7 linked regions of the Homo sapiens genome follow. The protein of the gene in region 2 purifies or fractionates together with the protein of the main gene of each other region. This does not show direct contact. Each region holds a gene or a part of one and is shown on either strand. Other genes may lie near its edges.

The links.
Region 1: the proteins of BPNT2 (region 2) and C1orf198 purify together in Homo sapiens (affinity purification with mass spectrometry; one large-scale study listed by BioGRID and IntAct). This does not show direct contact.
Region 3: the proteins of BPNT2 (region 2) and SOAT1 purify together in Homo sapiens (affinity purification with mass spectrometry; one large-scale study listed by BioGRID and IntAct). This does not show direct contact.
Region 4: the proteins of BPNT2 (region 2) and CSGALNACT2 purify together in Homo sapiens (affinity purification with mass spectrometry; one large-scale study listed by BioGRID and IntAct). This does not show direct contact.
Region 5: the proteins of BPNT2 (region 2) and GOLPH3L purify together in Homo sapiens (affinity purification with mass spectrometry; one large-scale study listed by BioGRID and IntAct). This does not show direct contact.
Region 6: the proteins of BPNT2 (region 2) and OCRL purify together in Homo sapiens (affinity purification with mass spectrometry; one large-scale study listed by BioGRID and IntAct). This does not show direct contact.
Region 7: the proteins of BPNT2 (region 2) and GOLPH3 purify together in Homo sapiens (affinity purification with mass spectrometry; one large-scale study listed by BioGRID and IntAct). This does not show direct contact.

What each region holds. Positions count from the first base shown.
Region 1 is NC_000001.11:230,837,188-230,841,324, reverse strand, and holds part of C1orf198 (uncharacterized protein C1orf198), read left to right. Parts: intron 1-1,416; coding exon 1,417-1,473; 3' UTR 1,474-4,137.
Region 2 is NC_000008.11:56,980,262-56,984,398, reverse strand, and holds part of BPNT2 (Golgi-resident adenosine 3',5'-bisphosphate 3'-phosphatase), read left to right. Parts: intron 1-4,137. UniProt on the Homo sapiens protein: Exhibits 3'-nucleotidase activity toward adenosine 3',5'-bisphosphate (PAP), namely hydrolyzes adenosine 3',5'-bisphosphate into adenosine 5'-monophosphate (AMP) and a phosphate.
Region 3 is NC_000001.11:179,341,842-179,345,978, forward strand, and holds part of SOAT1 (sterol O-acyltransferase 1), read left to right. Parts: intron 1-168; exon of another isoform or gene 169-272; coding exon 273-351; intron 352-1,020; coding exon 1,021-1,102; intron 1,103-1,748; coding exon 1,749-1,794; intron 1,795-3,105; coding exon 3,106-3,235; intron 3,236-4,137.
Region 4 is NC_000010.11:43,176,096-43,180,232, forward strand, and holds part of CSGALNACT2 (chondroitin sulfate N-acetylgalactosaminyltransferase 2), read left to right. Parts: intron 1-4,137. UniProt on the Homo sapiens protein: Transfers 1,4-N-acetylgalactosamine (GalNAc) from UDP-GalNAc to the non-reducing end of glucuronic acid (GlcUA). Required for addition of the first GalNAc to the core tetrasaccharide linker and for elongation of chondroitin chains.
Region 5 is NC_000001.11:150,686,687-150,690,823, reverse strand, and holds part of GOLPH3L (Golgi phosphoprotein 3-like), read left to right. Parts: intron 1-4,137. UniProt on the Homo sapiens protein: Phosphatidylinositol-4-phosphate-binding protein that may antagonize the action of GOLPH3 which is required for the process of vesicle budding at the Golgi and anterograde transport to the plasma membrane.
Region 6 is NC_000023.11:129,560,471-129,564,607, forward strand, and holds part of OCRL (inositol polyphosphate 5-phosphatase OCRL), read left to right. Parts: intron 1-79; coding exon 80-181; intron 182-708; coding exon 709-823; intron 824-1,913; coding exon 1,914-2,030; intron 2,031-2,128; coding exon 2,129-2,316; intron 2,317-4,137. UniProt on the Homo sapiens protein: Catalyzes the hydrolysis of the 5-position phosphate of phosphatidylinositol 4,5-bisphosphate (PtdIns(4,5)P2) and phosphatidylinositol-3,4,5-bisphosphate (PtdIns(3,4,5)P3), with the greatest catalytic activity towards PtdIns(4,5)P2.
Region 7 is NC_000005.10:32,167,183-32,171,319, reverse strand, and holds part of GOLPH3 (Golgi phosphoprotein 3), read left to right. Parts: intron 1-4,137. UniProt on the Homo sapiens protein: Phosphatidylinositol-4-phosphate-binding protein that links Golgi membranes to the cytoskeleton and may participate in the tensile force required for vesicle budding from the Golgi.

The sequences.
Region 1 (4,137 bases), on a different chromosome or scaffold from region 2:
GTGCTAGTACCTTCTGCCCACCTCGGCTCCACATCAGTGCTCTAGCCTGTCCTCTTCGTGTTTCTGCACCTTCTTAAGCTAGTGCTTTCAGCCCTCTTGTTTCCTGCCTTCTCCGGTACCTGCCCATCTCTCCGTTCTGTTTTCTGTCTCACATCCTCCTGCCCATCAGCTCCTCCTTACAGACAGGCTCAGTTCCCTGCCTCCCTAACCAGCACTCTTTCTCTGAGACTCGGCACTGAGGGCTTCCTCTGAAAGAAGTATTTCCATAAAATAGGTGATAGTCCCCACTCTAAAGAGAAGCAGGAACGTGTTTCTGTGTGGGCAGTGGAGAGTAGGAGACAGCACATGAAATTCCTTTGAGAGAACAGATTTCTGAGTAAAGCACAGTGAAATGCCACTGCATTTAAGAAACTGGAAGGAAACCAGAACAAGGAAAACTGGATTGCACTCCTTCCATTCTGCATGTTTTGCCTCACTCTGCACCAGTCTCACATGTAGCCAAACTGGGCCTGAGACAGGTGTCAAGGGCAAGCCCATTAGCCCATTGCCTGCTCTTGCCGCCATGTATGCATTTTCTGCTGGCCGGCTGCTTGGAGGGTGGAGAGTCAAGGTTTCTTTGCTCAAGAAGACCTTGGCGCACCAGGTAAATGCCTGCCGGTGTTAGGCTGGAGGAAAGGGACATCAGAAACAGGCTGCTGAGTGGAAGCCAGTCAGAAGTTTTATGAAAACAGCAGCAGCTTGAGACAGCCCATGCTCACAAGAGGGGACCTGTCAGTTAAGCCCTTTCCCCTGAAAGAAGAATGACATTAAACCAGGCCTTGTGGTGCACGCCTGGTGCATGCCTGTAGTCCCAGCTACGTGGGAGGCCGAGGCAAGAGGATCGCTTGAGCCCCGGAGGCTGAGCTTAGAGTTTGGGAAAATCACTTCATAACCTTTCACAAGATCTGAAAGAAATAAGCTTCACATTCTTTCCACACTATGTTTACTTTCTCAACTTTACAAGTTCTTTTTTGTTGTGTTTGTGTGTGATGTTTGTTTTATATTTGAAGGAATATCTTTATCATTTGTTCTCTTATTTAGGATGAATAAATTTAAACATGGCTGTCATTCAGAAACAGAAAAGATTTATAGAAAAATACAGAGACATTGTTCTTTTCTCTGTAAGGTCTGTAAGCTGCTCACAGACATGCCTGGGGTTGAAGAGGGGTTAGTGTTGGATGCTGGCAGAGTATAGATTGCATTGAACTGTATTTAATCTTCTGATTTCAAGCACTGAGATAAATTGAGGTCAGGGAACCTCTGAGACAGAAGTAGGCTCTTTTATCTGGGTCGTTTTAAATGAGATGCTGTTTTTAGATTATACGTAACTGAAAAAAAGAGGCTCGTCTTACTTCCATGTTTTTGTCCCTTCTACAGGTCAGCTCAAGTAATGTCGTCTTGAAGACGGGATTTGATTTTCTGGACAATTGGTAAAATGTATTAGAAAAATACAATGAAGAACCCTAAAATGTTTTCCAAAGTGGTGTGGTGGAGGAGGATAAAAAGGGCCACCTTTTCCTATGTATTTTACTGGTTTCTTGACACTCTTTTCTTAATCATTTGGAAACTGGTCAATATTGCCAGATTTTTTTCTTTTTTGGTAGAACCAGATATATATGCTATTTTCAGTGATTTGATAACAGAAGTTTTCCATTTGGAATTTTTAAGGTCTGTTAATAATTCAGGAGATCTTGTAAATAAAACTTCTGTTCCCAGCTCCACCCAACTTTCCCCCTCCTCAAAGGATGTGTTTCAACCATGTCACAAAAATCATATAAGTGATTTCCATCTCCTTCTCCATTATTCCCCCTCCCCCCTCCGCTTTTTACCGTATGGGTTCCTTTTGGTGGGTGATTGAGGGTGATGTTATCAGCCATGACATCAGCATGCTGGCTGTGACCCCGGAAAGACTGGCCCCCAGCGACGTTCTCAGCCAGCGCTCGCAGCTGTCCGGGGCTTCTCTGGCAGAAGCCATGTCTCTCACATCATGTGCCAGCCTCCACCCTCACGCCATTTCCAGGGAACAGACTGCGGGTATGTAGCAGTGTAGTCTTTAACCTGCTCTGATACATATTCAGAGTATGGATTGTTGTTTAAAAAGAGTTGCATGTTTAAAGAGTTTTGTACTAGCTTTTCATTATTTTGTATCTAGATTATCAACAATGGGGCTACCACTTTCCTTGGTTTTATATCCATTTCCTCTTGGAAGTTCTTGTTGCTTATGTGACCTGTTGGTTGTTCCCCGGACTGGGCACCTACAGGAGTCAGGGCAGACGGCAGATGTGGCTGGAGGTCAGGGCTCTTCTGCTTAGTTGTGTTAGAGTCTTCCAGCATGGGACTGATGGGAGCAGTGGGCATTCTTTATCCCAAGGGCTAGCCAGGTTGCGTCATGACGGACCTTCCCCAGCCCTGACCACCACCAGAAGTGGAAGAGTGGAGTTTGCGGTCAACTCAGCAGTGCCCATGGAGACCTGCGTGGTGTCAGAGCAGCAGTATCTCTTGGAGCTGGTGCAGACACCAAGGCTGCCCAGTGGTACAACGTGGTCCACCTCCCCTAGGGAAGCTGCTGCACTCAGAGGCTGTCCTGCCCAGTGGCCCCTGAGCCGTGTGAGCCTGCAGGAGGCGTCTGAGCAGAGCCTCAAGCCCGGTATGGCGCCATCTCCATGTTGCCATCACTGCGTTCTCACCTGAAGCCTTAATCTTTGCGACACCTGCCAGTGAGCGCTCGGTTTCAATACCAAAGTGTGTCTTCTTCTTTTTTTTTTTTTTTTAAATGCCTGTTTCATAGGACCTTCTGAAATGATTTCCAGAATATTTTATCTGGCTCCAAAATAAAGCACATAGCAACTCACCTCAACCCCTCATCATCTCCAGGAAAGTTTCTGCCAAAGCTGTGGCATAGCCAACTTTTGATTTGGTTCTTGCCAATTGTTTTATGTCCCTAAACCTCATTTGGATCCTTGGGGTATAGTTTTATCTTTCTGCTTCAGTGATTTACTGTAACTTTTCAAATATTGGTTCTTTCTGTACCATTTAAGTATAGTTGATATATGTGAGGCAAAAAAAGGTTTCAGCATGGTGGTGAGGGAAAAAGGAGCTTAGAAATCCCAGTTGGCACAGCCTGGGCAAGCGCCAGCTCCCCTCAGGGCTAACGGCACTGTTCACACAGGGATCCTCAGAATCAGCGGCCACCTGCCTCCACCTTCTGCCTGGAGGGCATGGGGCTGTTGTAGAACCTATGGTAGCAAATGTATATGTATGAGTTTGTATTCTGTAGTGTTGGTGTAGCACAGAAGAAAGACCTGTGTCCTAGAGAGTAGGCCAAGGTGATCTGCCTCTTCTATTGGGAGAAATTCTAATTTCTTTCCCACTTTCTCAACAAGCCCAATATTCCCTCCAAGTTCTTCTTGGTGCTGAGGGCTGTAGGAATTATTGAAAGCTTCTGCCTCACTTAGTATCGTCTGGGGCCCAGCACCCAGCAATAACTCTAATAATGTTTCTTAATGGTATAGCCTCCTGAGATTAAATGTAAAATCAAAAATTAGGAAATCTTGGAGGGAGTCCTCAAGTTGTATTGCTTTGCTGTGCTTTTGGAAGAAGGGACGACCTGGAGGACACAGGCTCCTGTGTGGGTCTTCATCCTGCCTGACCGGCAGATCTTCCTCTACACCTTGGGCAAAGTCTATGCGAAGATGGTTTCTTAGCTCTCCATTTGCCATGATTTTCCTCCCATTCATCATGAGGGAGTTTCTCAAACCAGGAGTTTATATTTATTTTTTAGAAAATACACACTTTTCAGGAGAAACCTGAGCATGATTTTGGATTCTCCACCTCCCCCCAGTCTCTGCACCTGGGATTCAGCTCAAGGATTCAGTGTCTTCATTTTTACAAAAGTTCCCCCAAGAAATCAGCAACCAGCCTCTGTTTCATCTGGGAGCCCCTCCCTTGGCCCCCTGGGTTTGGGGGTGCTGCCCTACTGGGAACAGCGGGGGTCTGTCACCCGTCTGAGCCGCACCCCCCTGTGTGGATTTCAGGAAGAGCCTCCCTTTCTTTGCGTCTCCCTTTCTTTAATTAACATTTTCAAAAGTAATAAATTCT
Region 2 (4,137 bases):
AGCAACTATTGATAAGGTTGTTTACATTGGTGGGTAGTAGATTTTTCAGATTTGTAGGTATGTAGTGGTTGCGGCCGGTTATAAATAGCAGTTACTCAAAAGCAGATTAGGTATTTGTGCTAATGTTCTTGTTCTCCTGCTGTTTCTCCCTAACCCGATTCTCAGTGAAGATCTTTTCAAATACTGTTCTATAATGTGTTCGCTCATACTCAGCTGCAAGTACATGGAGAAGCTGACTTGAATTGTGCAAAAAATCAGTGAAGCTCAGTAGTTGCCAGACTTGGCACTGCCGTTTTGTAAGCTACAGTGGTTAAGGCCCATAAGCTACTTCGTCTTTTCTAGGAGTCATGTTTCTTTTTTTTTTGAAGTTTATTCCTTTTTGCATGGTGTTACTGTTATCTTCATTCATCTGAGGTAGTCTGGCATTGTTGTTAAGAGTGGTTTCTGAAGCCAAAATGCCTCACCAGTGCCACACTGTCTTAATTATTCTGGTCTTGATATCTGGTAAGGTAAGTCACCACACCATGATGGTATTTTTTTTCCCCTCTTCCCAAAATGTTGTGTTGCTTCTTGACTTTTTGTTCTACCATGTAATTTTCAGAAATGCCTTGTCCAGTTTCCAAGGAGAAGGTTAAAAAAAACCAACAACAACAAAAAACACTGGGGATTTTGATTGGAGTTGCATTTATCTGCAAGCTCTTTTAGATTTTCTCAGTGCTCAATAATCAACTTCATATTATGGATTGGTTTTTCTTTCTAAACTTTGTACCTCCCCACTTGCTCCTCTCCCCCTCCCTTTAGCTTACTGCAATGACTAGGACCCTCTGCACATTGTTAATAGCTGTTATGATGGAGGGCAACTGGCTCTGTGTTGCAGCCTGCGAGGTCCTTCACCATCTGGCTTCCATTACTCTCTGACCTCAGCTCCTTAGCCTTTCTCCTTGGCTCACTCTGCTGTAGCCTTGCTGGCCTCCTTGCTGCCCTCTGAACACACCAGGCACATTCCCACCTTAGGATCTTTTCATTTGTTATTTATTGGGCTAGAATGCACTTCTAGATGCCTGCCAGGCTTATTTTCTTTAGATCTCTTCAGTCAAATACCACCTTTTCAGTGAGGGGCTTCTCTAGCTACATTACTTTTTTTTCAAAACAACTTCATTGCAGCATAGTTTTTATATCTTACAATTTGTCTATTTCAAGTATACAATTCAGTAATTTTTAGAACTGCCAAATTGTACAACTATCATCATTAATCAGTTTTAGAACATTTTCACCACCCTAATAATACCCCTGACCCCATTAACTGTTTATTCTTGTTTTTATCCCTTATCCCAGGCAACCACTAATCGGTCTTTCTCTATAGATTTGCCTTTCCGGACATTTTACATTAATGGAATCAAACAGTATATGATCTCTTGTATGTTGATGCTTTCACAAAGCAAGGGGGTTCATCCATGATTTAGCATGATCAATACTTTATTCGTATATATGGCTGAGTAACTTTCCATTGTATGGATATACCAAATATATTTATCCATTCATCAGGGTAATGGATAAACTACTAATTGATGGAATTAGTAGTTTTCTGATTTTAGCCATTATGAATAATTGCCTAGCCACCCTTTCTTAATACTATCTACCCCTTTTTCTTAAAGAATAACCCTTCCACTACTCTCTAACAGTCCTTTCTCTACTCTCCAACAACACTCTTTCTGTCCTTTTGGTCTTTATTTTTTCCTCCTTATCACTATCCAGCATACTACATGTTTTTTCATGTGTCTCGTTGTTTATCTATACTAGAATCTAAGTTCCACAGGGCAGAAATTTTTGTCTCACATTGATCACTGTGGTATCTTTAAGACCTGTAACTGTGTCTGTCATATAGTAGGCAATCAATAAGCATTTGCTGAATTAATAAAGACATAAGTGAATAAATTGAATGTTTACTTTGCTCTGTACTGAGAAATATTTAAAGATTTACCAGGCGCGGTGGCTCATGCCTGTAATCCCAGTACTTTGGGAGGCCGAGGCGGGCAGATCATGAAGTCAGGAGATCGAGACCATCCTGGCCAACACGGTGAAATCTCGTCTCTACTAAAAATACAAAAATTAGCTGGGTGTGGTGGTGGGTGCCTGTAGTGCCAGCTACTCGGAGGCTGAGGCAGGAGAATCACTCGAACCCGGAAAGTGGAAGTTGCAGTGAGCCGAGATTACACCACTGCACTCCAACCTGGTGACAGAGCGAGACTCCGTCTCAAAAAAAAAAAAAAAAGAGATATTTAATGATTTAAGCGGTTTGATGTTTCTAGAATATTAGTATTTTTAACCTCTCCTGTGATAATTTGGGGTGTTTCAGGGTACCTTCTGGAGATTGGTGATAGTTATATTTTTTAAAATCATGTCTGTGTCTCTGCAACTTTCTGAAGACTATAGGTGAGAGATGTTGTATTGACAATACTCATGTATTGTCAGTGCTGTAATCGCTTTGGCACTGTAGCGTGGGGTCTAGGCATGGCATCACATGTAGCATAAACATGACCTACTCTGGAAAGGGAGCTTGTCAGAAAGCACAGGACCCAACAGCCTGTCCTGCTGAGAGTGTAAGTCCCTAACTAAAATCAAAATTTTGGGGACATTTTTTCTTGTGTGTGTGTATGATGATGTGATAGAAGTCTCATGGTGAGGCAGTATTCATATAAGATTGATGATCTGTTATTAACTTAATTCTTAAAGAACACTCAATTCTTAGATTTAGTCAATTGGTATATGCCAGTTTACAAAAGTAAATGCAGTTCTAAAACATTTTTTTATTATTATTTATTTTTTGTTTTTTTTGAGATGGAGTCTTGCTCTGTCGCCAGGCTGGAGTGCAGTGGCGTGATCTTGGCTCACTGCAACCTCCACCTCCAGGGTTCAAGTGATTCTCCTGCCTCAGCCTCCCGAGTGGTTGGAACTACAGGCACGCACCACCATGCCTGGCTAATTTTTGTATTTTTAGTAGAGATGGGGTTTTACCATGTCGGCCAGGATGGCCTTGATCTCTTGACCTCGTGATCCAGCCGCCTCGGCCTCCCGAAGTGCTGGGATTACAGGCGTGAGCCACCACACTTGGCCAAAACATTATTTTTAAAACACTGTTTTACAAATTAGACTAATTTTAGGATGCATTAAGAAGCACACTGTTGAAAACAGTGTTTTTTACATAGGATGGGACAGGGGCGCACTTGACAATGTCCGGAGACATTTTTGTTTGTCACACCTGAGGGTGTTGTTGCTGGCATCTGGTGCGTTCTAGTGGCATTCAGCCAGGGATGCTGTTAAACATCCTACAATGCACAGGACAGCCCCACAACAAGGAATTATACAGTCCAAATTGTCAGTCGTGCCAAATTGAGCAATCTCAATTTAAAGGAATCTGTAATGTGTTTGTAAATGAATAGAATACTTACATAAAGTATTATACAAACACATGTATATATATGTTATATGTAGAAATAATATATAATATATATTATACAGAGAGAATATATATGTGTAAGGGGGGTTTGTGTGTGTGTGTGTGTGTGTGTGTGTGTGTGTATATGTATGTATGTAAGGGTGTGGGGTAAGGAGAGAATATATTCCTTAAGGAGAGAATATATTCCTCTATTCTCGTAACAACCCTTCCTCTACTTATATTTCTCTCCTTACCCCACATCCTTACATATCTGTATGGTAAGTTAAATTTATTTTATCTTTTAATTTTGTTCCTTAGTTAAAAAAAAAAAGGTAGAAAATTTGACTGTACCTCCCTATTCTATGATACGTCTTTCTTCTAACTCTAGTTGCTTGTGTTGTGTTCCAGAATATTGTCTATTTTCACACTTTAGAGCTATTATCTTTCATAAAGCATTGTTAAGGTTTAAGTAGCTTGTTTCTTCAATGCTCAGTTTCTCTATATTTCTCTATATCCGAATTATCTGTCTTGATTAGTCAACAAACCAGGCTTGAATATTAGATTGGGAAGCATTTAAAGACCTGATGTCATGGATTTTTTTTTTTCATTTTCATTTTCATTTTGCAATATGGAGCATCAAAAGAAATAAAAATAGGGATTTACTTATTTATAATTTGGGTGATTGTTGTCTGAAATACTTT
Region 3 (4,137 bases), on a different chromosome or scaffold from region 2:
TATTTTTGATGCATCAAGATTTTGTTTCTGAATACTTTTTGTAAAAGTCATTTAAATTATAAAATATTTTCATAATTAAAAACTTCACTTTTGAAATGTCAGATTCATTGTTTTGTCATGTAACTATATAATAAAGGTTTTATTTTAATTTGTTTATACACTTATCAGGATTTTCTGACTTTACTGGCTATCTATAATGCATTTGACTAATGGAAAGGACACTTGCAGGAGACTTTCTTTGAAGAGACATCTTTTTCCTCCTGCTTTTGTAGATTCGTTTTGTAATGAAGGCCCACTCATTTGTCAGAGAGAACGTGCCTCGGGTACTAAATTCAGCTAAGGAGAAATCAAGTATGTAATTTCTTTTGTTCATTATTTCTTCCTCCCCTCCCCTCCTCTCCCCCCACCCCATTCCCTTCCCTTCCCTTCCCTTCTTTCCTTCTTTCCTTCCCTCCCTCCCTCTCTCTTTTTCTCTTTCTCTTTCTCTCTCTCTCTCTTTTTCTTTTCTTTTCTTTGTGTAATTTCATTAGTTTAAAGGATTATTGGCTGGATATTTCACCCTTTGTTGTTTTCTGGGATGTCACATTATATAATGTAGAGATTGTGTTTTATTTCAAATATATATTATCCATATTGATTTTGAGGACCACTTCATTGTTTCCTGACTATTCCGGCTTTGCCCTTGAACCTACAATTTTAAAAAATTGATTATCTTTTGCAACTTTGCATTATTTTTATGGAATGTTAATAGCCTCATTACACCTGTGCCTGCCTATTCTTTGCAAATTGTTGCTTCACACTCTAGAAGTTATCTCAGTCACAGGAATAACTTGGTTTAAAGAGATTGGTAATATTCAATTCGTGCAAGAATAAGAAGTCATTCCGGAGATCAGGAAAAAAGAACATGAGCTGATAAGTCATTTTATTCTTCCCTGTTCTGTGCTTCCTTATATTCCCCCCTGTATTTTTGCTGTGAAAAATCAAAGAGCCTTTGCTCTAACTATAGTTTTCCTTTTCTAGGCACTGTTCCAATACCTACAGTCAACCAGTATTTGTACTTCTTATTTGCTCCTACCCTTATCTACCGTGACAGCTATCCCAGGTAATGGTACTGTGAACCAGAAATGTGGTAAACACCAAAAGTGTGGCATGAGTGAGGTGGGATAGGTAAACAGGGGCCAGTTCATGTAGGGACATAGAAAATATAGAATGAGTTTTCATTTTCTGTCTGACCTGAGAAGCCTCAAATGGTGAGTAGGGAAGTCTAATTTGATTATAGTAATTCTTGACAGAATTATAAAGTATTTCATATGGTCATAAATGATGTTCTGAATTAATTAATTTTTATTTATTTTTATTATTTTTAATTTATTTTTTATTAATTAATTAATTTTAGTTTTTTCTGAGATGGGAGTCTTGCTCTGTCACCCAGGAGTGCAGTGGTGCTATGTCGGCTCCCTGCAACCTCTGCCTCCTGGGTTCAAGTGATTCTCCTGCCTCAGCATCCCAAGTAGCTGGCATTACAGGTGTGTGCCACCACGCCCGGTTGGTTTTTTTGTATTTTTATTAGAGACGGGGTTTCACCATATTGGCCAGGCTGGTCTCGAACTCCTGGTCACTGCCTTCCAAAGTGCTTGGATTACAGGTGTGAGCCACCGCGCCTGACCAAAAAACATTAATTGTGAGGGTCTTTATTCAAGTTCAATTACTTTATTTAGAAACCTTATTTTTGTTTCTTTCTTTTTCAGGAATCCCACTGTAAGATGGGGTTATGTCGCTATGAAGTTTGCACAGGTAAGTTTTTGTAACTGCCTAAGGTATGTTGATTAGGGGATGGGGATTCATATTTATGATAATAATATAATCTAGTTAAATCTAATTGGGAGCTAAGAATGCTTTCTGTTGACATTATGCAGTCTTTTAAACTATTTCCAGTACGGTAAATGGTGTTTGTTTTGCCAACATCAAAAGTAATTTTCTTTAATAAAAGAATATATTAGGCTGGGCGCAGTGGCTTGCGCCTGTAATCCCAGCACTTTGGGAGGCCTAGGTGGGCAGATCGCGAGGTCAGGAGTTCAAGACCAGCCTGGCCAACATGGTGAAACCCCATCTCTACTAAAAATACAAAAATTAGCCTGGCGTGGAGGCACGTACCTGTAATCTCAGCTACTCAGGAGGCTGAGGCAGGAGAATTGCTTGAACCTGGGATATGGAGGTTACAGTGAGCTGAGATCACTCCTCTGCACTCCAGCCTGGGCGACAGAGCAAGACTCCATCTAAAAAAAAAAAGAATGTATTATTTATAAAGTAATTCTAATTGGTTATTTCAGTAAGCATTAATTTCCCCCTTCCTTCCTGTTTTTGGGGGAGGTATATATGTATGTGGGTATAGTCTGACTCTTACCCATTCCTCCTCCCACCTCCATCAGAATCATTAATCCTGGAAGATCCCATTTTAAATTAGTGTCTCAATCAAATGCCCATTTATGAAGTAAGTTCTTTCATTAAGGGGTTTTTTTTTTTTTTTTTTTTTTTTTTTTTTTTTTTTTTTGAGAAGGAGTCCTGCTCTGTTACCGATGCTGGAGTGCAGTGATGCAGTCTTGGCTCACTGCAACCTCTACCTCCTGTGTTCAAACGATTCTCCTGCATCAGCCTCCTGAGTAGCTGGGATTACAGGTGCCCACCACTGCGCCTGGCTAATTTTTGTATTTTTAGTACAGATGGGGTTTCACCATGTTGGCCAGGCTGGTCTCGAACTCTGACCTCAAGTCATCCACCCGCCTCAGCCTCCCAAAGTGCTGGGATTACAAGCGTGAGCCACTGTGCCCGGCCATGTTACGGGTTTTAAGCAGCAGGAAAACAGGTTCCAAGAGTAAGCTCTTCTAAAAATATCATTTGGTAAAGGGTTAGGAAAAGTGATGGTAGAAACTAGGCTTGAGTAATCTCCCTGAAGGATTATAGCAGTCTTCTATACTAGTGTTAAATGGAATACATATGCGAACATTACTGTAAGGGTCACATCTGTACTTTCTTTTGGAGAGAAAAAAATCGCCTTCCATCTTATTAAGCCATCGTTATTATAATTCTGTCTCTGTTATGTTCCAGGTCTTTGGTTGCTTTTTCTATGTGTACTACATCTTTGAAAGGCTTTGTGCCCCCTTGTTTCGGAATATCAAACAGGAGCCCTTCAGCGCTCGTGTTCTGGTCCTATGTGTATTTAACTCCATCTTGCCAGGTAACATGGGTACTTGTTAATTTGGTCATGCATAAATTCACGAGGTAAATAGAAAGCTATTGCCTATGAGCACCTTTGCTTTGCCTACTTTTTCATCTAAACTTCTATACATCTATGCCCATCTTGACCTCTTTTGCATCTACTTTATAAATGAAGTATCCTTCATCCAGTCTCAGGTCAGTCTTTCATCTTATGGCTTTCACTCAAGTTGTGCCTTTCTCTGACAGTGGACAGTCCACATTCATGCTGTGTCTTCCTGTTCGCTATTAAGTTCATTGTAATCTTGCTCCTGATTCCACCAAGCCACTTAAATGCCCCTTGTTGAAATTACTAGTAACTTGTAGAAATTACTTGTAGAAATTACTAGTAATCCATATTCTAATCCAGTGGATGGATTAAGATGTACTTTACCCCTTATCCAAGTTGACCTCCATGAAGCATTGGGTGCTGCTGACCACATTTTTAAATCTCTCTTGTCACTGTTTTCTTGCCTTTTTTTTTTTTGAAATCGGGTCTCTCTTTGTCACCCAGTCTGAATGCAGTGGTGTCATCATGGCTTACTAGCCTCGACCTCTGGGGCTCGAGTGATCCTCTCGCCTCAGTAGCTGGGACTACAGGTGCATGCCACCATGCCTGGCTAAGTTTTTATTTTTTGGAGAGACGGGGTCTCCCTATGTTGCCCAGGCCATTCTCAAACTCCTGGGCTCAAGTTATCCTCCTGTCTCAGCCTCTCAAAGTGCTGGGGTTACAGGCTTGAGCCACCATGCTTGGCCTTTTGCCACTATTTCTTATTTTCCTCCTGTCTTTCCGACCATACCTTGATTTCTTAAATATATTTATTGCATTTTTTTGTCTATTATAGAGATATATGAGTACCTAGTACTATGCCAGGTGCAGAGGAC
Region 4 (4,137 bases), on a different chromosome or scaffold from region 2:
AAAGGTCTCAGATTTGAGTGTTTTCCTACTAAAGTATGAGTGTCTAAGGTTAGCTAAAAAGAGAAACTGGATATACAAAAGGCAAAATAAGTTTATAATTAATGTTTTGAATAGGAAAAAAATGGTCATAAAAATAAAGTATAATATTTACTTGTTCCTTTAAAATCAAAACACCTGTTTTTAAAAATATCTGTTTAACTTGTTACCCATAGTTGCAGGTGTTTAGAGTAGTCTTACAAAAGCTTTCTCTATAACTTTACTGTTGTGCCCATGGGTTGTTACAGCTGGGAGTAATCTTGGTTATCTAGACCAAGGACTTTCACATTTTTTTGAGATGAAACCTCCTTTACTTGTCTAGTGAACTGTTACACAAAATCCCAGTATTTAATACAAATGAAAGAAGACCTGCTCTTTCTAGCGCGTCTTGGAATCACACCTTAGTCATGCATTCCCCTAAGCCTAAAGATGGCCCATGAATAATTTGTTCTAACTATCCTGCATGCTCTGTTGTCCAGGCTGAAGAGCAGTGGCACAATCTTGGCTCACTGCAGCCTCTGCCTCCCAGGCTCAAGCGATCCTCCTACCTCAATCCCCAAGTAGCTGTGACCACAGGCGTGCACCACCACACCCAGTTAATTTTTTTGTTTGTTTTGTAGAGGCGGAGCTTCATTATATTGCCTAGGCTGGTCTTGAACTCCTGGGTTCAAGCAATCTGCCCACCTTGGCCTCCCAAAGTGCTGGGATTGCAGGCGTGAGCCACCATGCCCAGCCCCTAGCTTCAGTCTTACCCAGCAAAATATAAAGTGTCAAAGAATAGTTTAATAAAGCAGGCTGAAACCTGATTCCATGTCTTCTGATTCATTTAGGGCTAGCTACCTTTCTACAGCATAGAAGTCATAGAATATATTTTATATACATTCTAGGTCCATATCACATTCGTTTTTATAACCAGCCTTTTGTTTTGGAAATCCCCCCACCTTGTCTCCTTATCATTGTAACACTTGAATAATGGAAAATCAGGAAATAACAATAAAAGGGGCGTTAAATTAAACTGATGCTCTTTTCCTTGATTTCTTGCTTAGTTAAGCAAGCAGCATTTCACTATTCCTCAAAAATAGATTTGTGTACATTTTTTCAGTATCTTGAATGCTTTGAGTTCCTTATCTCTTTTTTATGACAATTTTATTGAGATATAGTTTACATATCATAAAATTTATTAATTTAAAGTGTACGGTTAACCAGGTCATGTAGCTATCACCACCATCAAATTTAGAGCATTTCACCCCAAAAAGAAATCCCATACCCATTAACAATCACTCCTCACATCCTACCAACCCTCTTTCCCCCCAAACTTAGGCATCTACTGGTCTACTTCCTATAGATTTGCCTCTTCTGGGAATTTAATAGAAAGCAAATTGTACAATATGTGGCCTTTTATGACTGGCTTCTTTCACTCACATAATGTTTTCAAAGTTCATCCATGTTGTGACATGTTAGGTACTTCATTCCTTTTTATAGCCAAAAAATGTTCTATTGTGTGGTTATACCACATTTTGTTTCTCCATTTGTCAGTTTATATGCATTTGAGTTGTTTCTACTTTTTGGCTATTATAAATACTGCTGCTGTGAACATTTGTGTTTAACTTTTTGGGTGGACATAGATTTTCAATTCTCTTGGACATATGCCCAGGACTCTGGCTGGGTCATATGGTAATCCTGTGTTTGACCTTTTGAGAAATTGCCACACCGTTTTCCAAAGTGGCTGCATCATTTTACATTCCCACCAGCAGTGTTTAGGAGTTCCAGTTTCCCCACATCCTCATTAATACATGTTATTATCTTTTTGTTTCTAGTATCACCCATGATAGTGGATGTGGTATTGATTGTGACTCTGATTATAATTTTTCTTATGATTAATGTTGTTGAGCATCTCTTGATGTGTTTATTGGCCATTTGTATATCTTTAGTGAAATGTCTGTTCAGATCCTTTGCCCATTTTAATTGGGTTATGGAGTTTCTTGGGCTTCTTGAATATGTACATTAATGTTTTTCATCAAATTTGGGAAGTTTCAGCCATTATAGTCATCTCTCAGTACCTGCATGGGATTGGATCCAGGATACCATGTGGAACCAAAATCCATGGTCGATCAAGTCCCTTATGTAAATATACATATTTTCATATTACCTGTGCATATCTGCCCATATACTTTAAACCATCTCTAGATTGCTTATAATACCTAATACAGGCCAGGCACGGTGGCTCACGCCTGTAATCCCAGCACTTTGGGAGGCCGAGGCGGGCAGATCACGAGGTCAGGAGATCAAGATCATCCTGGCTAACAAGGTAAAACCCTGTCTCTACTAAAAATACAAAAATTAGCCAGGCGTGGTGGCAGGCGCCTGTAGTCCCAGCTACTTGGGAGGCTGAGGCAGGAGAATGGCATGAACCTGGGAGGCGGAGTTTGCAGTGAGCCGAGATTGCACCACTGCACTCCAGCCTGGGCAACAGAGTGAGACTCCATCAAAAAAAAAAAAAAAAAACCCTAATACAATGTAAATACTATGTAAATAGTTGTTATATTGTATTTAAATTTTTATATTTATTGTTATTTTTTATCGTTTTTTTCCCTAATATTTTTGAACCATGTTGGTTGATTCTATGGGATGTGGAACTCATGCATATGGAGGGCTGACTGTATTTCTTTGAATACTTTTTCTGCTCCATTCTCATAGTTTTCTCCTTTGACACTCACTGTATGTATGTTGGTACATTTAATGGTATCCCACATTTTTCTTAGGCTCTGTTTATTTCTCTTCATTCTTTTCTCCCTCTGTTCTTCAGATTGCATAATTTCTATTGATCTATCCAAGTTCTCTGATTGTTTTTTCTGTTAGATCTACTGTTGAGCTACTCTAATGAATTTTTATTTCAGTTACTATAGTTTTTAACTTCAGAATTTCTATGTGGTTCTTTTGATATATATATAATTTCTTTATTAATACTCTATGTGATGAAACATTGTCATCTTCTGTTACTTCCTTAAGTGTGACTTCTTTTAATTCTTTGAACATACTTACAATGGCTGCTTTGGAATTTTTGTGTATTAAAGCTAATGTCTGGGCCCTAACACAGGCAGTTTTTGTTGCTTGCCGGTTTTTTTTTTTTTTTTAAGCGTATGTCACATCTTCTTGTTTCTTTGCATTCCTCATTATTTCTTTTTCGAAAACTAGACATTTTAGGTAATACACTGTGGCAACTCTGGATACTGATTTCCCTCTACCACCACGGCTTGGTTTTTTTTTTTCCTTGTTTATTTATTTATTGACATGGCTGGACTATTTTAACAAATTATTTCTTCCTCCTTCCCCGACCTTTTGGCAATATGAAGCCTCTGCTGTTGCTCCTCAGGGCCTGTGCAGTTATCCTAGGATGGCATTGGATTTAGCAGGGCTCTCTTTATCTCTTTCCATGCCTCCATTGGTATCACTCCTATTAGACTCCACTGACTGTTCACTAATTGCTGTCTTGTTTTTGACAATGCTCTGGGGCATAAATTGCTCCATAATCTGTCCCTACTAAATTGGGCCCTTTTGCAGGGATAGTTTTTGCAGCAAGTCTTTGAGATTTGTTCAGACCCCAGGAGGTATATTCTTACTATCTCTCTCTGTGGTTCTCTCTAGTAAATTAGCTGGCCTACAGTTTAGCTGTTGCCCTCCTGGAGTTACCAGCCTCCTCTTAATTGCTTACTACCAAAATCTCCATTATTTTCAAGAGGCTGGAACTTCTCTAAACTCTGAACTTCTCTACATTCTATTTTAAATAAAGTCAGTTCCTTAGGGAAGAACTTTGGAGCACTTTGTTCTTATGGACTTCCTCTCCCCCGGGGGAAAAAATCCATGAGGTTTTGCCCTGAGGATGGGGACAGTGACACACTTATTAAGCAGAGTGACCACCTCTGCCCTATGAGCAGGACACTGGGTAGGGGCAGGAGGACCCCCAGTATTCTCAGCTGGCCACACCTGGAAGTGGAGCCTCCACCCTGTTGCTGTGGGCTGGGTGAAAAAGAGCTGCACCTGTTTAGAACTTAGACTCTTTATTTGGAGCTTCTGTTCCCTTGTTTCCTTTCTTCCTGGTAT
Region 5 (4,137 bases), on a different chromosome or scaffold from region 2:
GGGAAGAATAGAAAAAGGCAGTAAAACAAGCCATGCCTTTAAAAATGGGAGGATTAACATGAATGGAGAAAAGGAAACACGTTCTGGATGAGGGAACCTGAGTGAGCAAAGGTATCATGAGCTTGATGAGTTTGGGAGATAACTGTGAGTAGGCCAGTATGACTGAAGTAGGTGGAGAACAATGGGATTCAAAATCAGTAAATTCGATTTGGACCAGATTATAGATTTTGTTACCAGGCAGAGACTTTTAGACTCTTTCCTTTAGGGAAAAGAGAATCAGCCTAATGAAAACAGCAAAGCCCATTTCATTTTTGTGTCCAAATTAAGGGCTTAATAACATTTTTATGTTCTTTGTGAGTATGTTTTAATGTGTATATAATTGCTTGTTTTTACATGGTTTGGGATTTGTGACAAGTCAAAAAAGGAAAAAATCCTAAATGTTAAATTTTGTGTCCCAAACTCCCAAACTTTTACTGGAGAGTTCCCTAAGATCCTCTGTTTAGAACCCAGTATTATCATTTTTTTAGAAACTATGTGTCTTTCAAGCAGGCACGGTGGCTCCTGTCTGTAATCCCAGCACTTTGGGAGACAGAAGGATTGCCTGAGGCCAGGAATTCTAGACCAACCTGGGCAACATAGTGAGACCTCATCTCTACAAAAAATATAAAAATTAGCCTGGCATGGTGTCACATACCTGCAGTTTCAGCTACTTGGGAGATTGAGGCGAGAGGATTGCTTGAGCCCAGGAGTTCAAGGCTGGAGTGAGCTGTGTTTGTGCCACTGTACTCCAACCTGGGTGACAGAGTGAGACCCTGTCTTAAAAGAAAAAAAAAAATTCTTCTGAGGGGTAACTACCACAGACTGGTTTTAAAATATTAAGCATCTGGCCAGACGCAGTGGCTCACATCTATAATCCCAGCACTTTGGGAGGTTTGAGGCGGGCAAATCACTTGAGGCCAGGAGTTCGAGACCAGCCTGGCCAACATGGTGAAACCCCATCTCTACTAAAGGAAAAAAAAAATTAGCTGGGTGTGGTGGCATGCACCTGTAATCCTAGCTATGCTGATGGGAGAATCTCTTGAACCCAAGAGGCAGAGGCTGCAATGAGCCAAGGTCACACTACTGCACTCTAGCCTGGGTGACAGAGTAAGACTGCCTCAAAAAATATAAACTAATTAAATTAAATATTAAGTATCATTGTCTTATGAAAACAATCAAGAAATTTAAATATAATTTGAAGAGTATAACCTTTCAAGCACAGTTAAAATTAGATACTATCTCAGTTCAATAACACTGACCTCAACTGAGAAAGTAAACATTGAGCACAAGCCTGACCAAAATAAAATAGGTTTATCTCCTGTTGAAATCAGGAATCTGCTTATTTGTTATTATTGCCTTTGGTAAGAGTTTTGATATAGATTATTAACTCATGAACAGTGTTTTAATTGACTTGCTAATGTATAAAACTTTTCATTTATTAGAATCGTTTCTTAAGTTACCTGTAAGGGGAGTAAGCCAATTACTGCTTTTGACTCCTAGTGGTCTTTTCATTTCTCATCTATTTAATTTGTGGATAATGTTTTTCAACCATCCTCTCTTTCTTGGAAAGCTTTCTCCTAGTAATGCCATTTATTGAATACTTACTACTTACTGTGAAAGAAAAGCTTTTCATCATATTTCTCATGTCACTGTGGTAAAAATTGGCAAGAAGTATTATCCATTGGAAATATGGCAATACATTTTCACTTATTTGTTTAATCACCAAAAATTTTATTGAATGACTCATATGTCATAGAAAGAGAGAACAAAAACAATTGTCCCTGCTTTTGAGGTCAATTTATGGTTTAGTGGCATAGGGATGGTTGGAGATGCTGGGAGTAGAAGCCAGAAAGTCAGCAGACCATTTCAGAACAATGTGATATGTGTATAAGTGTGTTCTGAGTAGGAAGGAAACACAGAGGAAAAGCACGTAAATCAGATGGGTGGTGGGAAGGAGCAGTAGGAGAGGGAAGAAGAGATGTTGGGAAAGACTTACAGGAGGTGATAACTCTTTTTTTTGTTGTTTGTTTGTTTGAGATAGAATCTCATTCTGTCACCCAGGCTGCAAAGCAGTGGCGTGATCTTGGCTCACTGCAACCTCCACCTCCCGGATTCAAGCGATTCTGCTTCCTCAGCCTCCCAAGTAGCTGGTATTACATGCACCTGCCACCATCCCCGGCTAATTTTTGTATTTTTGTAGAGACGGGGTTTCACCATGTTGGCCAGGCTGGTCTTGAATTCCTGACCTCAGGTGATCCAACTGCCTTGGCCTCCCAAAGTGCTGGGATTACAGGTGTGAGCCACTGCGCCCCGCCAGGAGGTAATAACTCTTAACTGGAATAAGAGTGAGTTAGTCTGTAAAGAGACAGGTTCTAGGAAAAAAGAACATCAACTGGATGTTCCTAATAATTTCAGTGATGTGCAACTGGAATAACCACAGATGTCTGAAAGCATCCCATCTCCTTTTAATGAACTCCAGTGTTTTAAAACTGAAGTATGAGAGCTGAACATCCAGTTACATGCTTTATTGTTTAAGTTTTCTAAAATTGTGAAATACAGTGTATCCAGAAAATTGTATAAAGCACATATATACAGTTTAACAAGTAGTTTGAAAGCCAACAGTCATGTAATCACCAATAGAACAATATCAGCATCCTGGAAGGCTTCTCTTATGCCTGCCCCTAATCACATGCTGCCCACTTCCCTGTAGTTTTGACATGTATGTATATCCCTAAACAATATATTTTAGTTTTGCCTGTTTTTAAACTCTATTTTATTGGGTTAATATTTTAATGTATTCTTTTGATCAATATAATGTTTGTGAGATTTGTCCATGTTGTTGCATATAGTTTAATCCAGTTCATCCTGATTAATATTTCATTACATGAATATACCACTATTCATTCTATGGGTTAATGCACATTCAAGAGTTCATTATGAACAGTGCTGCTAAAATTCTCCTGGTACTTGTCAGTTATCTTTTTTCAAACAATCTACTGTTATCCACTATACGTATGGGAATTATACGTATGAAATTCATATGTATTTTTAATTATAAAGTATGTTAATGCTACGCTTTTTCAAGCTGCTGATGATCCTCCATCAAGTATAGTTCATCTTTATTAGCAATAGGAGATTAGAAGTAAAAGCTTCTTTAAAGCTGGTAAAAAAAATTCACTAATCAAAAAGTTTTTTTTTGTTTTTTTTTTGAGACAGAGTTTCGCTCTTGTTACCTAAGCTAGAGTGTAGTGGCACGATCTTGGCTCACCGCAACCTCTGCCTCCCGCGTTCAATTCTCCTGTGTCAGCCTCCCAAGTAGCTGGGATTACAGGCATGCACCACCACGCCCGGCTAATTTTTTGTATTTTTAGTAGAAACGGGGTTTTACCACGTTAGCCAGGCTGGTGTCGAACTCCTGACCTCAGGTGATCCGCCTGCCTCGACCTCCCAAAGTGCTGGGATTACAGATGTGAGCCACCACGCCCAGCCCAAAAAGGTTTTTAAAATCAGTCACAGTCAGTCAGTGTCCAACTTGTTGATTATTGGCTATGAATGAAGAAAATTGGCCGCCTTAAAAAGTGACTCAATCCTAAAGCATTTTATTATAATTAAAATATTAATAGCAGGCCGAGCAAAGAACAAGACCTTGTCTTAAAAAAAAAAATTAAAAGTCTAATTTAAGTTACTACCTGGTCTTTCCTTTTAGTTTCCTAATCGCGCAAAATGAACAATAAGTCTCCCAGTAGCTACTGCGATTGTGAATAGGGCAACTGTATCAGAAGGGCTTGTTTGTCAGGTTTTTTTCTTTAAACATAAGCTGTTAAAAAAATTAACTTTTGTTTTTTATTATATCCAGGCATATTAACCCCAAATAACTATTTACTATTGGTATAAAAGGAAATAAACTGGAAGACCAAAGACCTGTTTTAATAGTAGGAAAATATAGCTTAAGCTATTTCATTAAGATCTTCTCCCTAATTCTTCCAATCCCCAAATGCACACAGTACTCTCCCAAAATATAAAATATCTAGTATTGATATTGAGACAAAGCTGCCCACTTGAATTTGGGATTTTGGCTGTAACCACTGTGCCTATAAA
Region 6 (4,137 bases), on a different chromosome or scaffold from region 2:
ATGGAAGCGAAAAGAAAGAACTTCTGTTGGTTTATACTTGATCTTTGTTTTCAAATTATCTTTTCGTATTATGTATTAGATTTTTTGTTGGAACTTGGAATGTGAATGGCCAGTCTCCAGATAGCGGGTTAGAACCTTGGCTGAACTGTGATCCCAATCCTCCTGATATCTACTGCATTGGGTAAAGAACACTTCTGGAATTTCCTTTTGGCTATATGTTTGGTGTTCATTTACATGATGTTTTGCCTTTTTTAAAAAAGACTGTTGGTAAAACCTACTGTAGACTATACACGAGAGTTAACTTGCGGGTCAAATTTGTGAGAACAGAAATGAACAGATACCTAAAATGGTGTAAGGAAGCATCTAATTTTCTTGAAACCCGTAGGAATCTATATATTCTGCATAGAAACTAAGACTTGGGGTCAGTTCTAACAGTGACAGTTCCTAGGATATAAGAGCAAAGCTCTGCTGTTATCCTCTGTGGGAGGTATTTTGATTTATTTTTTGCATAGCTTATGAATGTACTTGTGGGAATTCTTTAGAAAAGAAAGCTACTTGTTCTTACTGATAACCTGGGTGAACAGAGCAGTTCTATAAAATTTATCTCTCTCCCATCTTTTTTTCATCTAATGTTTCAACATATGGGACAGGAGGTAGCCAGAGATAATTATGGGATATGTATAGATCTCATATCCCTTTTTTCCTCAGATTCCAAGAACTGGACTTGAGCACAGAAGCCTTCTTCTACTTTGAATCTGTGAAGGAACAAGAATGGTCCATGGCTGTAGAGAGAGGTTTGCATTCCAAAGCCAAGTATAAGAAAGTAAGCCGCATTTAATTATCTTTTTAAGTGTATGACTAAATAGGGCTCACCGGGAGTTATTCCATTATCTACAACTTGTTCCAAAAGAATAGTTTAATTGAATTCTTCTCTGTGTGTAATACTGGGATAGGGCAGATTGATCATTCATCCTTATTTCCTAGAAAAAAAAATCCCTAAGCTTTCTGATACTATATTTTCATTGCTTAGATAGCTTTTAGGGGAAAAAAGAATTTTATTATGCTTATATCAATACTTAGTTTGAAATAATTACATATAAGATTTAGATTACTCACTGACATGGTCAGAATTGAATGCTTTACAGAAAAGCAATATGAAACGTGGGCGCATGGTGCATGTGTTGCAATCAGAGCAAGAATAGAAGTGGTGTGGAATTTGAACGAGTTCTAAACTTGGTTTTAAGTTAAGAGGAGAGTTGACTTTAGCAAGATGGGCCAATTTGTTTGTCTTTAGAAGGTATGTGGTAAAGGCATTTAGCTACCAGAAGAGTTAATTACAGGGCTATCATACTAAGGTCTCTAAAAGAAGTAATGTGAGTAATTTTTCTCTACATCTTCTAACAGTTTATATAGGTAATAAAACTCCTGGGGATGTTATTCCTCTCATATAGGTCCCTGACTAATGTATATCTCAGACATATTTCTAGCTGTAGTTCACAAGTTAAAAATAAGTAAAAAAGATTGCTGTTTGGTTGATTTCAATTTCTTAGAAAATTAGACATCAGAAACTAGGAAGGAAAGGTGGAAGGAACAAGCTGGGATAGTGGCTTTATTATTTGAACTTTTAATGCTGCTTACTCCTGGTAGGCTAAGAAGTGATTAAAAGAATAGATCTAGAGCTGAAAGTACTCATTGTCCCTCCCAGCTTTTAACTCTTATTGGTCAGTGCCAGATTAGAGCCTCCCCAGAGAATATTAGTTTCCACTTGACGGGGTCCACTGAGAAATTAGAGGATATGAAGTCAGATTTGGGCACTAGTATATCATCTTGATGGAAAATTAGTCGTGGGACATTAGAAATGTGGCAAAGATTGGTATTAACATTAACCTTTTGTAACTCCCCGGAACTCATAGGTTCAACTGGTGCGCCTTGTTGGGATGATGCTTCTTATATTTGCCAGAAAGGATCAGTGTCGATACATTCGTGATATTGCTACAGAAACAGTTGGAACTGGAATCATGGGGAAAATGGTGAGTTACTTTGGAAATGAGCTTGATTATTATTCATGTTCATGTAAAGTTCAGTTGCTTGTTCTGTGTACTAATTGAATAATTACTCTTGCTAACAGGGAAACAAAGGTGGGGTAGCTGTGAGATTTGTATTTCACAACACCACCTTTTGCATTGTCAATTCCCATCTGGCTGCACACGTGGAGGACTTTGAGAGAAGGAATCAAGATTATAAGGACATTTGTGCGAGAATGAGTTTTGTGGTCCCAAATCAGACCCTCCCGCAGTTGAACATCATGAAACATGAGTAAGTGGTTAACTCACCTGTAGCCTTTGAGTAGTGGCTACAGGAGTTTGGATAGTGTAGAGATTAAATGTGAGATACTGTAGAGCTGTGAAGAGTGAAAGATTACCAGTGAGGGATTGGGGTCACAAAGGAGAGGGTTTTTGAGTAATAACAGAATCATTGAGGCAGAGAAATTAGACTTGATATCAGAGGAAAAGATAGTTCTATTAGTGGGGCACCTAGAATAATGCTGGAGGGTCTGTAGTTGGAGTCAGTTTTTATTGTTTTTATGATAAAATAGAAATATTCATTGCAAATGTAATAAAAGATAAAATTAGAAGTTAAATTTCCTCATTTCTTATTCTCTACCTAGCCAGTCCCTCTCTCCAAAGGAAACCATTCTTAACAGTTGGGTGTGTAGCCTTTTAGATCTGTACTGTCCAATATGACAACCAGTAGCCATATATGGCTGTTAGGTACCTGAAAGTGACTGGTCCAAATTAAGATATGCTGTATGCATAAGCTATATATTGGATTTTAAAGACTTAGGAAGAAGATGTACGATATCTTGATTTCTAAAATATTGATCACATGTTGAAATAATTTGGATATATTGAGTAAAATGAAATTTATTGATACTCACTTGTTTTTTTTCTTTTTAAATGCAGCTACTAGAAAACTTAAAATTATATTGTGAGGTGCATTATAATTCTATTAAATAGCACTATTCTAGCCTTTTGTCTATTCATATACAAACACACACATAGGTACTTGGTGTATAAGACTGTATTATTCTATTTATTGTGGATTCCTTTCCAAGCCAGTATATATAGATCTACATTATTCTTTTTAATGGCTGTGCTTATTAAAAACAGGGGCAGCAGAGAGAGGTCAGTGAAGAATGGGATTTAATAAGCATAGAAGCAGAGATGTGTTGAGGAGTAGATGTGGTGGTAGAAAATGATTAGTTTTAAAGAAATTAATATACCTAAAACCATGAAAACCCTAGAAGAAAACCTAGGCATTACCATTCAGGACATAGGCATGGGCAAGGACTTCATGTCTAAAACACCAAAAGCAATGGCAACAAAAGCCAAAATTGACAAATGGGATCTAATTCAACTAAAGAGCTTCTGCACAGCAAAAGAAACTACCATCAGAGTGAACAGGCAACCTACAAAATGGGAGAAAATTTTCGCAACCTACTCATCTGACAAAGGGCTAATATCCAGAATCTACAATGAACTCAAACAAATTTACAAGAAAAAAACAACCCCATCAAAAAGTGGGCAAAGGACATGAACAGACACTTCTCAAAAGAAGACATTTATGCAGCCAAAAAACACATGAAAAAATGCTCACCATCACTGGCCATCAGAGAAACGCAAATCAAAACCACAATGAGATACCATCTCACACCAGTTAGAATGGCAATCATTAAAAAGTCAGGAGACAACAGGTGCTGGAGAGGATGTGGAGAAATAGGAACACTTTTACACTGTTGGTGGGACTGTAAACTAGTTCAACCCTTGTGGAAGTCAGTGTGGCGATTCCTCAGGGATCTAGAACTAGAAATACCATTTGACCCAGCCATCCCATTACTGGGTATATACCCAAAGGACTATAAATCATGCTGCTATAAAGACATATGCACACGTATGTTTATCGCGGCACTATTCACAATAGCAAAGACTTGGAACCAAGCCAAATGTCCAACAATGATAGACTGGATTAAGAAAATGTGGCACATATACACCATGGAATACTATGCAGCCATAAAAAATGATGAGCTCATGTCCTTTGTAGGGACATGGATGAAATTGGAAATCATCATTCACAGTA
Region 7 (4,137 bases), on a different chromosome or scaffold from region 2:
TAAAACATTATGAAATTTTTTTTGCAATTTTTTTTTTTTAAAGCTCATCAGCTATTGCTAGTGTTAGTGTATTTTATATATGGCCCAAGACAGTTCTTCCAGTGTGGCCCAGGGAAGCCAAAAGGTTGGACACCCTTGCTCTAAATGTTTAAGGTGAAGCATATTAACATGCTGTTTTTCGGTGATTGGGTCTTAAGAAGATAATCTAAATAATTTGTTGAAGTTTAACCATACTCACATAATTTAAACAATTTAAAGTTATTTGGCGGGTAATTGAAACCATGTGTTCTGTTTATTTTGCATCAAGAGTCACTCATTATACTTTGCTAGTCATGGCTAAGGTCCAGATGCTTGCTAGCTTATTGTGAGCATTTCTTCCTGATTTCAGCAACCACATGGGGAAATTTTTTCTCTTTTTTTTTAGGCAAGTCCAGAGAGTTGAGGGGTGGGGTTGAGACTACTGGGATTTTGTATTGCTTTAGGTTTTGGTTTTAGGGATTAGCCTATATATTTTTTCCTTTCATCACATCTTTAAAATTTTTTTTTTTAAGAGATGGAGGTCTCAAGATGTTGCCCAGGCTGCACTCAAACTCCTGGGCTCAAGTGATCCGCCCTGAGTAGCTGGGAATACAAGGTGCATGCCATCAAGCCAACTCATCATGTCTTTACACTCTAATAACCAGCCCTGTCAACTTATCTGTTGGTATGTTTTTCCCTTGGGAGGCTCGCCACCATGTTTTTAACCTATAGTACTCTTTTTAGGAGGCAGGAATTGCTGTCTTACCCTGAGCCCAGGCGTTTATGCTAACTCATTGCTTTAACTGATTTTTACTTCAGCATTTATCTTTTTAATGTCTGGATTCTCCTAAGAACTTTAAAAGCTAAACTTTACATTTAAGCAAATCATTAATGTTGGAAATATTTTATATATGTGAGCTAATAACCTTATGTGAATATACTTGTTAAACCAGTACCTAGAGCAAGAAACAGAAGCCCTAGCCCTCCACTTGAGTATCTTTCCAGTCACTACCCATTCCTCAGGGGTAACCACTGGCTTAATATTAGAATTCAGCATAGATTAATTTTGCCTAGTTTTTTGTACTTTGTGTCTGCTTTTTGTTCAATGTGAGATTCATCCATATCGTGTGAGATTGTCCTTTGTTCTTATTGTCTTACCAATTTATTTTTAACATGTTTATAATCTATAATATTTAAAAAATTACTTTGACATATTCTGAGTCAAGTCTCCCTCTCTTTTTTGCTGAACAGAAGGTTCAGTTTTTGAATAAGCAGATGGTCTGGCTTCAGATTACCTGTTAGGAGTGAGTCTAAAGTCATTGTGATTGATTTTTTTTTTTTTCTTTACACATTTCAGATTTTTTTTTTTTAACCAATGATATTTGTTTTTTGCTTTTATAAAACAGGGATGGCTAGTCCCCTCAGAAGATTTTCATGCTCACTTGGGCAGAGAATCAGTGCATAAGTATTTAAGTAACTCTTTAAAGACCACAGTAAGGATGGCAGATAGTTTACACCTAAATTCAACTGCCAAGTAATTAGCAGTATTTCTTTAATTGACCCAGTGTTTGAGGGGGAGGGACAGCAAAAGTGCCAGGTATTTTCCTTTCCCTGTGTGTGTTTATTCTATAGATGCTTTCCATAGAATATTTTCAGGATGCTTTATTGAGAATTACCACAAATAACTGGTGTCATATATGTTTGAATGTCTTCATTGGTGGCAAATCTTAGTCTTTTAAGGTTAGATTTAATTATTTTCAGTGGCCAAGTATAATTTGGAGTATGCCTATGGAACAGCAGAAGCAGAGAGAGGCTCTATAGTCCTGTCCAAAGTGTATTCTTTGGCTTTTACATATAATTTAAGCCTTCTGAGCTTCAGTGTTTTCATGTATAATGGAAAAGTAGTCATTCCATATGATGGTTCTGATTGTACTGCTGTGGATGTTTATTAACTCCTCCCCAGGTCTTCGCTTTATTTTGTATTACTTTAGGGTTTCCCCATAGTGTGTTGCCTGTTTTTGAGACAGGGTCTTTCTTTGTCACCCAGGCTGGAGTGCAGTGGTGCGATCTTGGCTCACTGCAGCCTCAACCTCTTGGGCTAAAGTGATCCTCCTGCCTCAGCTTCCCGAGGAGCTAGGACCACAGGCACACACCACCATGCCCAGCTAATTAAAAAAAAATTTTTTTTTTATAAAGACAGGGATTTCACCACATGGCTCAGGCTGGTCTTGAACTCCTGGGATCAAGTGATCCTCCCGCTTCAGTCTCCCAAAGTGCAGGTATTAGAGGCATGAGCCACCGCACCTGTTTTTTTTTTTGTTGTTGTGTTTTTTGGTTTTTGTTTTAAGACAGATTGTGCTGTGTCGCCAGGCTAGAGTACAGTGGCGAGATCATAGCTCACTGCAGCCTCGAACTCCTGGCCTCAAGTGATCCTCCCGCCTCAGCCTCCCAAAGTGTTGGGATTACTGCGACCGGCTCTAGGATGCACTCTTGAAGCATATTATTCCCCTGCTGTTTTGTCATGCAGCCAGACTTGTCCAATCATATGTTTTCTTTCAGGGCTTTGGATCTTGAGAGAATAACGAGCTGTAGGGTTTTTTGGAGACCTTTCCAGAGTCATGTCAGCGTGTGGATCAGACTGTTCTTTGGCATGGTTCTTTGAGCTGCTTTCTCTGGTCTGTTGGCACTGTTTTTTTCCAGTCTGATTTTCCAGTCATCTTTCAGTGTTGTGAGTTTCAACAGCCTTCCAGTAAAGTTGCTTTTTAAAGATAGCCAGAGTCAGTTACTAATGTTTCTAATGCTTGTAGACAAGAACTGTAATACAGTAACTTAACTCTATGTCTTGAAAAATAAGTAGGTACTTGAGGTAAATAATATGTAATGGGGTAAAATACTTAAGATTAACCAAAATGATAGAACTGACTTTTGTGTGGCTTTTACACAGGCTCCAAAGATGTTTTCCATTTTTGGAATAAGGTTCCCAAGGTCACTACTTTGAAGTATAATAGTGATGAAGATGTATAACTTAACAAAAATTGTTTTCCTTTCTATACGTGTGGTGATGTCCACCATCTCTACATATCAAATCTGTAAATCAGAAATTCAGTCAACAAGTATTCAGAATTTCCAGATGTGCTGAGTTTTAGTAATTTAAAATATAATAAAGGCTTCTGAGTTTTTAATGAATTTTCGTTGTTTCTAAGACAAATGATATTTCCTTCATATTTTTTGAAGTTTTGAATTTTTATCTATTTTTTTCAGGTGTTTAAACACAGGTATGAGATATACAGGATCTCAGAAATTACTTTTGAAGTTCATTAAACTATTTGATTGTACTTTTTTTCTTTTGAGACAGGGCCTAGCTTTGTCTTCCAGACTGGAGTGTGGTGGTGTGATCATGGCTCATTGCAACCTCGACCTCCTGAACTCAAGCAATCCTCCCTCCTCAGTCTCCTGAATAGCTGGGACTATAGGCGCACCCTATCATGCCCAGCTAATTAAAAAAAAAAATTTTTTTTTGTAGAGACGTGGTCTCACTATGTTGCCTAGTCTCGAACTCCTGGCCTCAAGCAATCTTCCCGCCTTGGCCTCCCAAAGTTCTGGGATTACAGGTGTGAGCCACCACGCCTGGTCTGCTTATTATACCTTTTCAACAAGATTTTATACTGTTGAAATTACTTTTTAGTGCTTTGGGATTCTTTTACAATATGGTCAAAATATTCACTAACTCATCTCATAAGTTATACTAATATTTGATATTTGTTAATTTTGGACTACCTGAGAGTTCTTGTATGGAGCATTTGAATTACGTTTTAGAATTGTATTTTGAAGGCTGGGTGCGGTGGCTCACACCTGTAATCCCAGTACTTTGGGAAGCCGAGGTGGATGGATCACCTGAGGTCAGGAGTTCAAGACAAGCCTGGCCAACATGGTGAACCCCTGTCTCTATTAAAAATATAAAAATTAGCCAGACATGGTGGCGAGCACCTGTAATCCCAGCTACTCGGGAGGCTGAGGCAGGAGAATCACTTGAACCTGAGAGGCGGAGGTTGCAGTGAGCCAAGATTGCGCCACTGCACTCCAGCCTGGGCGACAAGAGTGGAACTCCATCTCAAAAGA